Linked DNA regions of Homo sapiens: regions 1 and 3 are each linked to region 2. The links come from fine-mapping of genetic effects on gene expression. A gene starts in region 2. Each other region holds a variant in brackets. All regions are shown on one strand. Distances are from middle to middle.

Evidence for each region. PIP is the estimated chance that this variant, and not a neighbour inherited with it, causes the effect.
Region 1: its variant is the best candidate, but not a certain one, in a credible set for the expression of WWP1 in whole blood (GTEx, PIP 0.61).
Region 3: its variant is the best candidate, but not a certain one, in a credible set for the expression of WWP1 in naive CD8 T cells (Schmiedel 2018, PIP 0.87).

What each region holds. Positions count from the first base shown.
Region 1 is chr8:86,525,402-86,528,249 of GRCh38, reverse strand. All of the region lies in intron 2 of CPNE3 (copine 3), which reads right to left. Among named protein-coding and RNA genes, the nearest start is that of CPNE3, 12 kb to the right of the region's middle. The variant T/A (reference allele first, on the strand shown) is at 1,532.
Region 2 is chr8:86,341,441-86,344,086 of GRCh38, reverse strand. It overlaps WWP1 (WW domain containing E3 ubiquitin protein ligase 1), which reads right to left and starts at 1,540. Exons shown (of 25, transcript NM_007013.4): 1 at 1,157-1,540. WWP1-AS1 (WWP1 antisense RNA 1) reads left to right here. Exons shown (of 6, transcript XR_007060994.1): 2 at 427-497; 3 at 811-1,005. RefSeq lists a silencer at 990-1,449.
Region 3 is chr8:86,579,224-86,581,723 of GRCh38, reverse strand. CNGB3 (cyclic nucleotide gated channel subunit beta 3) reads left to right here. Exons shown (of 18, transcript NM_019098.5): 16 at 2,472-2,500. Among named protein-coding and RNA genes, the nearest start is that of CPNE3, 66 kb to the right of the region's middle. The variant T/G (reference allele first, on the strand shown) is at 1,070.

The DNA of each region.
Region 1 (2,848 bases), 180 kb before region 2:
GGCCAGGCTCAGTGACTCATGCCTGTAATCCCAGCACTTTGGGAGGCTGAGGCAGAAGGATGGCTTGAGCTTAGGAATTTGAGACCATCATGGGCAAGACAGCAAGACCTCGTCTCTACTAAAAATAAAAAAAATTAGCCAAGCATGGTGGTGTGTGCCTATAATCCCAGCTACTAGGAAGGCTGAGGCAAGAGGATTGCTTGAACCCAAGAGATTGAGCCTGTAGTGAGCTATAACTGTGCCACTGCACTCCAGCCTGGGCAATAGAGACTCTGTCTAAAAAAAAAAAAAAAAAAAAAAAAATTTCTTTTTACCTTAACTATAAATTTTATCATTCAGAAAAACTCCAAGTATTATCTTGACCCTTCACTTAAAGGTATGCATAGCATTATACTACAAAACAGATTAAGTTTTATTTTTATTTGTTTATTTAACAAGACACTGAGTGGGATATTTTCTGTTTTCAAGATTTTTTGACTAAAACCAAAAGCCCCCAAAGCCCCCTTTCCCTCCACTCTACCCCCAGCTCCCAATATTTTGCAGCAGTGGTTCTCAATATTGGCTGCTTCCTGGAATCATCTGGAGGAGCTTTCAAAGCTACTGATGCAGGAGTTCCACTTAAAGAGATTTTAACTGGTTTAGGGTACAACCCTGACATCAGTTCCTTGGATGATTCTAATGTGTAGACAAGGTTGACAAGCCTACTATTCTACAGAGAGAAGGTGTGGCCCATCTTCCCTTATGACTTGCTAAGAAATATCAGAGTTAGCTTAACTTCCATAGACCCCTCCTTCCCCAGTCTCCAATCAATATATGAAAAGGACTGGGGATGGGATGGAGCATATGATAGGGGCTGGACTTGAGAAGGAATGTAGTATTGCTGGTGAGCTGCCTTCATCCATGAACCCAGGGAATGAAAGGGGCTGCAGGTGTCACCATGAAAAGGAACTAGGCATTGCATTTCCCATCTGGATGTCCACTTAGCCAGTGGAGGTTGATGGTGCTAGGGCAGGTTCTGCAGGAGGGAAGGTACCTACTACCCTAGAGCTGCTGGCAAACATCCTTGCAATGGGATAGTATTTAATGCCCTTTGCCCTCCACTTTGAGATTTAGCTGAAGTTCTAGGACCACAGAAACAAATCCACTCATTATCTTGTTATATTTAAATATGGCAGTAAGATTCCTGTGCTGTATAAAATGCCTAAGCAAATCTGAAGTAACAAAGATTATCATTAGAAGAGCCCTTTGTAATGTCAAAAAACAACTAACATCTTATTTAAAAATTTTGATAATTCTATTGAACTCTCTAAAAACAGTAGCAGTCCTCAACATATGTCAAAAATCAATACTAAGATTCCTAAATAAATAGAGACTAAGAAAAATGAAGTAGGTTGCATAGTCTTAGAAGTAGCTAGAAAACCCGTTTAAAAACAAAGCTGGCCGGGCACGGCAGCTCACACCTGTACTCCCAGCACTTTGGGAGGCCAAGGCAGGTGGATCACTTGAGGTCAGGAGTTCAAGACCGGCCTGG[T/A]CAACATGGTGAAACCTCGTCTCTACTAAAATACAAAAACTAGCTGGGTGTGGTGGCATGAGCCTGTGATCCCAGCTACTCTGGAGTCTGAGGTAGGAGGATCGCTTGAGACTGGAAGGCAGAGTTTGCAGTGAGCCAAGATCATGCCACTGCACTCCAACCTGGGTGACAGAGTGAGACCCCATCTCAAAAAAAAAACAAAACAAACAAACAAAAAATATGTATCTTATATATTTATATATGTGCCTAGTATACAGTAAGTGCTCACATTTTATTATCATTTTATCACTATCTGCCTCTAGGGTCTGATCCTATCTTATCTATCCCATGTTTCATATTTTTTTATTATTCCATTCCATGATTATCCTGATTATTCCAATCCATACTAAGGTGTTCCTTTGAATTCCTATTGCACTAATAGTAACAGATTACTGCATTACAGGAACAAGATCAAATTTGGGGTAATGCACACACCCAATTTTTTTTTTTTTGAGACGGAGTCTTGCTCTGTCGTCCAGGCTGTACTGCAGTGGCGCGATCTCAGCTCACTGTAGCCTCCGCCTCCCAGGTTCAAGCAATTCTCTGCCTCAGCCTCCCAAGTAGCTGGGATTTCAGGTGCCCGCCACCGCCCGGTTGAACCCTCCATCTGGCACTTGCTGTGTGACCACGTATAAGTAACTTCAACTTCCTGGGCCTAGATTTCCTCATCAGTAAAAATGGAGATAATGCAAGTAAATTTGTAAATCTGGCACGTGCCAGGCATACTGTTTTTTTGCATCTAATACAGAATCTGTAAAATAAATGTGAGTTGTATGATTTTTTTTTGCATAAGGTAGTTTAGAGTCTTGTAAGTTGTATGTCAGCAATATCAAGCATAATGCAGTGCCCTGTGGATGAACATAGAATGAGCAACAATAGCTAAAGCTTCCCCCAAAAAAACATGTAGAGGATTCTCTACCAGCCAGCAGAAAAGTCTTCAAATTTCCAAGGATGGGAAGAATTCAACAGAGAATGAAGACATCTACATGTGAAGTCAGTCTCACAGCAAAGAGACACCACATATCAGAAGAGCATTATTTTTTTCCCTAAAAATGCTTATACAAAAGCTACAAAAACAACATGCCAGGCACAGCTGATTATTTAACCAATTGCTGACAGTTATACTACTGCATTGCTGCCAGGAAACAAATTTCTTCTATTAGCAGCATTCCTCTCTGAAAAATGACTCTGTGCTGGTCTCAATGTTATCCTGAAACCCATTATGGCTGAATGGCAAATGGAAGAAATTACATAAACACTAGGGTCTGGAATCTTGTT
Region 2 (2,646 bases):
GTCACACAATAAAAGAACGACTTTCTTCTTTAAAAGGTGCATTTTGCTTGTATAATACACACAGATTTGGTGAGGCAGGTAAAGTGGATTTACACATAAACATGAACTCTTGTTAAAAAAAAAAAATGCAGGTAACTGTAAACCAACTATTTCAGGTAAAAACACCAAACGGGGAAAACAAAGATAATTTTGGACATGATTTTTTTTCCCACTACTATTACCAGTAACATTTTAAAGCAGAAACACAAAATCTTGTTCCACATTAACCTACACACACACAGAAAAAAATTTGTTAAACTTATCAAATAGAAAAAGAAGGCAAAATCAAGCCCCTGGAAAATATTTTATTCTGAAAGAGTAAAAATGTCAAAATTATAACAGACACTACTCTTCTTTGGTAATGAAGGTTTCATATATTTACCACAGCAGAGAAAACTCCAAATCGGCAGAGCAAAGAAAGGACTGTGAACAAGACTGATCATTTAAAGGTCGTAAAGGTAAGGAGCAAACTACAAAATTAAATTTTTTTAAAAAAAGAACACGAAGATGAAAGGAGAGTCTGTAAGTCACAGACAAGATAAGGACTGGTAAAATCTGCAAGGTCACTGGAACCTACCAGGTCACAAAAGGTGGAGGTGGGGGTTGCGCTGGGGGGGCGGGGGATGGGGAGCTGCAGAGTCGGTGAAGAACGGAGAGTGATAAAAACATGTCAGAAAAAGACGTTCCAAAGCTGGAGTCCTTGGTTTGCAACGCTGAAATTGGGGTGAAAGTCAGGGAACGGGCAATGAGTCCATGTATTTGTGTTTTCAGGGAGGTGTTAGGGAAAGGTGGAGGAAGGCGAAGAGAAGGCTAAGGAAGCCTAAGAACTGCGGCTGCAGAGTCACGGAAACACTTCGCTCCGCTCCAGGATCACTGGCACAGGCCTTTGCCAGGGCGAACTCCGGGCAAGACCCGTGACCCCACCCCAGAAAACTCCCGACTCCCGGGCTGGAGAAGGTAGCCAAGGTAGGGCGGACCGTCCCCCGACGGGTCCTAGGAGGGTCCAGCCCGGGGGCGGACGGCGCCGGGCGCCCAGCACCGCGGCCAAGGCTCAGGGCCCGTGCCCCCTCCCGCCCTGCCCATTCGCACCCCCAGCCCCGCGCCGCGCCGTCCTTACCCGGCGCGAAGCTGTCGGCTCCCGGCAGCCGGGCGGCCACGGCAGCGGCACCTCCTCCTGCGGCGGGCGCCCTCACCCTTCCGCGCCCAAGATCGCCATCTCGCAGCAGGCGCGGCGGCAGCAGCCACCCAGGCGTCGGCCCCGGCAGCCCAGGCCGCCAGCAGCCACTCGGAACCCGCACGCGGAGCTCGCCGACACCCGACCCTCCCCCCACCCCCACCCCGTCCACGCGCCACCCCCAGCCGACCCCACACCTCCCTTCCTCGGGAGCGCGCCGCGTGGCCGCGTCGCCGGCGCCGCGCCCTAAGCGCGCGCCTCCCCGCCGGCCCCGGCACCGCGCGCTACGCCGCGGCCGCCCAAAGCCTCCAACTCCGGACCCGGAATCCGCCTCCCCCGAGCATGCGCAGCGAGGGCGCTCGGATGCTGCCTTAGGAAAACTCCGCTCCTCCGGGTCTTCCGAGCAGTCTAGCGGAGGGGGACGGACAGCCAATAGTAGGGAGGGGCGGGGCCTGAACGTGTGGAAGGGGCGGGGCCGCCGCTGAGATTTGGGAAGAGGCTGCTCTAAGCTCGCGCTGGGCACTGCTAATTTGACTTTCCGGTCGGCGGCTGATCCCGGAGCAGGACTTCTTAAGGTCCGGGGGCAAAAGTAGGCTGTCCATAAATACTCCTTGACCTAGCTGGGTGACCTCGAACACATTGCAAGAGTAAATAATTGCATTTAGCCATTGGTCATACCCGAAGACTTTCAGTCCATTTTTTATTAATCAAAACGTTCATCTGTGGAAGCCCCACCACCTAGTCCTCACTCACATCAGCCCGGTGATAAAGCAGATACTTATTGACCGAGTATACGTGTCCGCACAATTAACGCACACAACAATCTGACAAAGTAGTGTCTACTGTCTGCATTTTACAGAAAAGTCAACTAGTTTAGAAAAGTACTGTTGGTTATGTGTATTGCTTTTAGAAGAAAGGCCAATGTGCAAATAGAAGTCAGTGGGACCACATTGCTTACCAGGTGACCCGGTTTCTACTTCAGAGAAGCAGAAGCCTTCAGGCATGGATTTCTACAGCTTTTGCCCAACCACCTGACCAACCCCCATAGATTATATCTACGTCCACACCCAGACTTACTAGTTTTCCTTCTATCTCGGAGGCTAGATGTCCCTGCTCCTCTCCACTGCCTGCTCCCCACTGTGGGCGGTCCTTGGCACATCTTTAACTTCACCCTCTCCACTGCCTACAACTCCTCAGCATAATCACGTTTTAAGATTAGGTCCTAAATTTTCCCTTGATTTTAAAACCTCTGGTTCTCTCTCCCCTTCCATTTTAACTGAGCTTTTTGAAAGAACTGTGTACCAAAAACAACCCCAACACTTCATGAGTGTGTACAGAATTCAACAAGTATCTCTTGACTGAACAATGCACATTCCCGCCTACCTCCATGCATTAGTTCTTGTCCTCTGGCTTCATAGTTGAAATTGGTGCAC
Region 3 (2,500 bases), 240 kb before region 2:
AAGGGGAAACAATTTATAATTCTGTGATAAAGTTTCAGTTTTTTGTATTTCCCAATGCTGTGACATTCACAGGAGTTTCTTAGCTTTCCATCTCCCTTAGATAAGACAGGAAGTCTTAAAGGGGCTGCATTGGGAAAAATGTTCTTCCCTCAGGTAGCACAAAGCTCTGGTAAAGTATTTTTCTCTAAATAGTAGGCCTGCGGTATGGAGAACAAATATGCTCTGGGTATATTTCACAATGATTAATCTTCCCCTATGCCTGCCAGAGCCGAGAGGGGATCTTCCTTGGCTCTTCACCCTAAGAACCTGATGAGGTTCCTGGTGGTAAATCCCACAAAAGTGTGAGTGACTTTATAACCATGGCCCCCAAGAGTTTCTCACTCTCATGCTAGTCCACATTCAGCCTCCAACAATTTATTAAAATGAGCATTTAAGCATTCTTACCAGTTATGACTCCAGGGGCTTCTGCTGCAGTAAGCAGATATGGCTGTAGTTTTATGGATTCACCTCTCTCTCCAGATTTGGGGGCGGTAGTTTGCCCTGTGACTTCAGTTCTCTGAAGGATCTAAGAAAAGTCGTTAATTTTTCAATTGTGCAGCTTTTTCTTGTTGTAAGGACAGGAGTAATGATTTCCAGGCTCTTAACCTGTCAGAGCTAAAACCCTATATAAGTTTTTTAACAATTAACAGCCAACTGGAATCCTCCCTTTTCTGCAACAACAGAAGTTGTTCATACTGTATAACATAAATCTTCAGGCACAGGGCCCATGCAGCTTCTTATATCTCATTGCTTCCAAAGGTCAGAGTGTTTTCTCTGTCTTCTCCACCTGTAGAAACTGCTTTTGTTAATGTGATCCTTCTTTCTCAGTTTCTAACAGATTAACTCCAAGGGGTTCAATCTGTTGTGTTATCCTCTCAATGCAGATCCTATGGTGTCTTTTTTAAACATTTGAAATGTGGTTTTTCTTGTTCTGTTTTTACAAACCAATCCTTCCTTCTCAGATCACCGGTAACGACAGACTTTTTATTCATTTATCTTATTCCTTTCTGTGTTTATTCCCCCACTCTTT[T/G]TTGCTTATTTCTCAAATGCAAAATGCTCTTTTATATCCCTCCAAGACATAAAGCCCACAATTCCCTGGCATTCCAGGTGGGGAGATGTATGTGAATGACTATATTATAGAGCAGCTTATGACACTGAGGAACAAGTTGATTTTGGAGTATAGTAGGAGATGAGATTGGATTCACCTGAGGTGACCAGGGCATCATGAAGTGCTGGCTTTCACATTTGATGTTGAGAGTTGTATCAGCCAGAGCCCAGGTGGGAAACAGACACACTCAAGTGAGGCAATTGAGTAAACTTTAATAAAGAGATTACTGACAGAAGTGAGGAAAAGTCTAAGAGTACCCAACTGACATGGTTTGGCTTTGTGTCCCCACCCAAATCTTTTCTCAAATTGTAATCCCCATGTTTTGAGGGAAGGACCTGATGGGAGGTGACTGGATCATGAGGGCAGTTCCCCCCGCCACCCCCCCCGTGCTATTCTCGTGATAATGAGTGAGTTCCCAGGAGAGCTGATGGTTTTAAAGTGTGGCACTTCCTTGCTCTCTGTCTTTCCTGCTGCCATATAAGATGTGCCTTGCTTCCCAATTGCCTTCCACCATGACCGTATGTTTCCTGAGCCCTCGCCAGTGATGCAGAATTGAGTTAATTAAGCATCCTTTGTTTAGAAATTACCCAGTCTCAGGTAGTATCTTTATAGCAAGGTGAAAATGGACTACTACACCAACAAAAGGTGGCAATGCATCTCAAATTTAGCAACAGCAAAGGAACTGTTACTACAGTGAGGCCTGAATGGGAAAAGAAGAGGGTATGTTTACCAGAACTCATCAAGAGTGATGGGAATTGCACTTCTAGAAGACATCCATGTGTCAGGAGCTGTAGATTTTGGTAGAGAACTGCAGCCACTGCTAACCTAAGGCTTGGCAGGAAAATAACAGGGGAGATAAATGCTCTGATCCCACTCTCTTCCTGCTTTCTGATTTCCTATTAGTCTTTTCCAATGGCTGAGCCCAAGTGAAGTCAGAGGGCAAGCCTACAGAGGTCAGCTTCCTGGGAAACAAAGGAGCATGGGGAGAGGTGAAAAGTGGATCTGAAGGAGCAAATGAGGGATACCCAGTCCAAAAGGATTCTGCATTTCTGGAATCTGGGATGAAGGATCTGACAGGATACTGACAGCCACAAGTCCTTGATTTGTGGGACTTAGAGGTGAGAGTTAGAGAAAAAATATATTGAAAACTGAGCCATTTCTATTCCCACATCTTGACACTCTCTGCACAATCACCTGGACCCTCACCTCTAGGGAATGATTTCTGAAGCAGTATAAATACTTATAATAGTTGCTATTTTTTTAAAGAGATTTCAGTGGAGGAAAACTGAAACTGGTGGCAAAGACTCATTTTTCTCTCTTACAGCCTTCTAGCAGCAGGAGGAGGAAACCGTC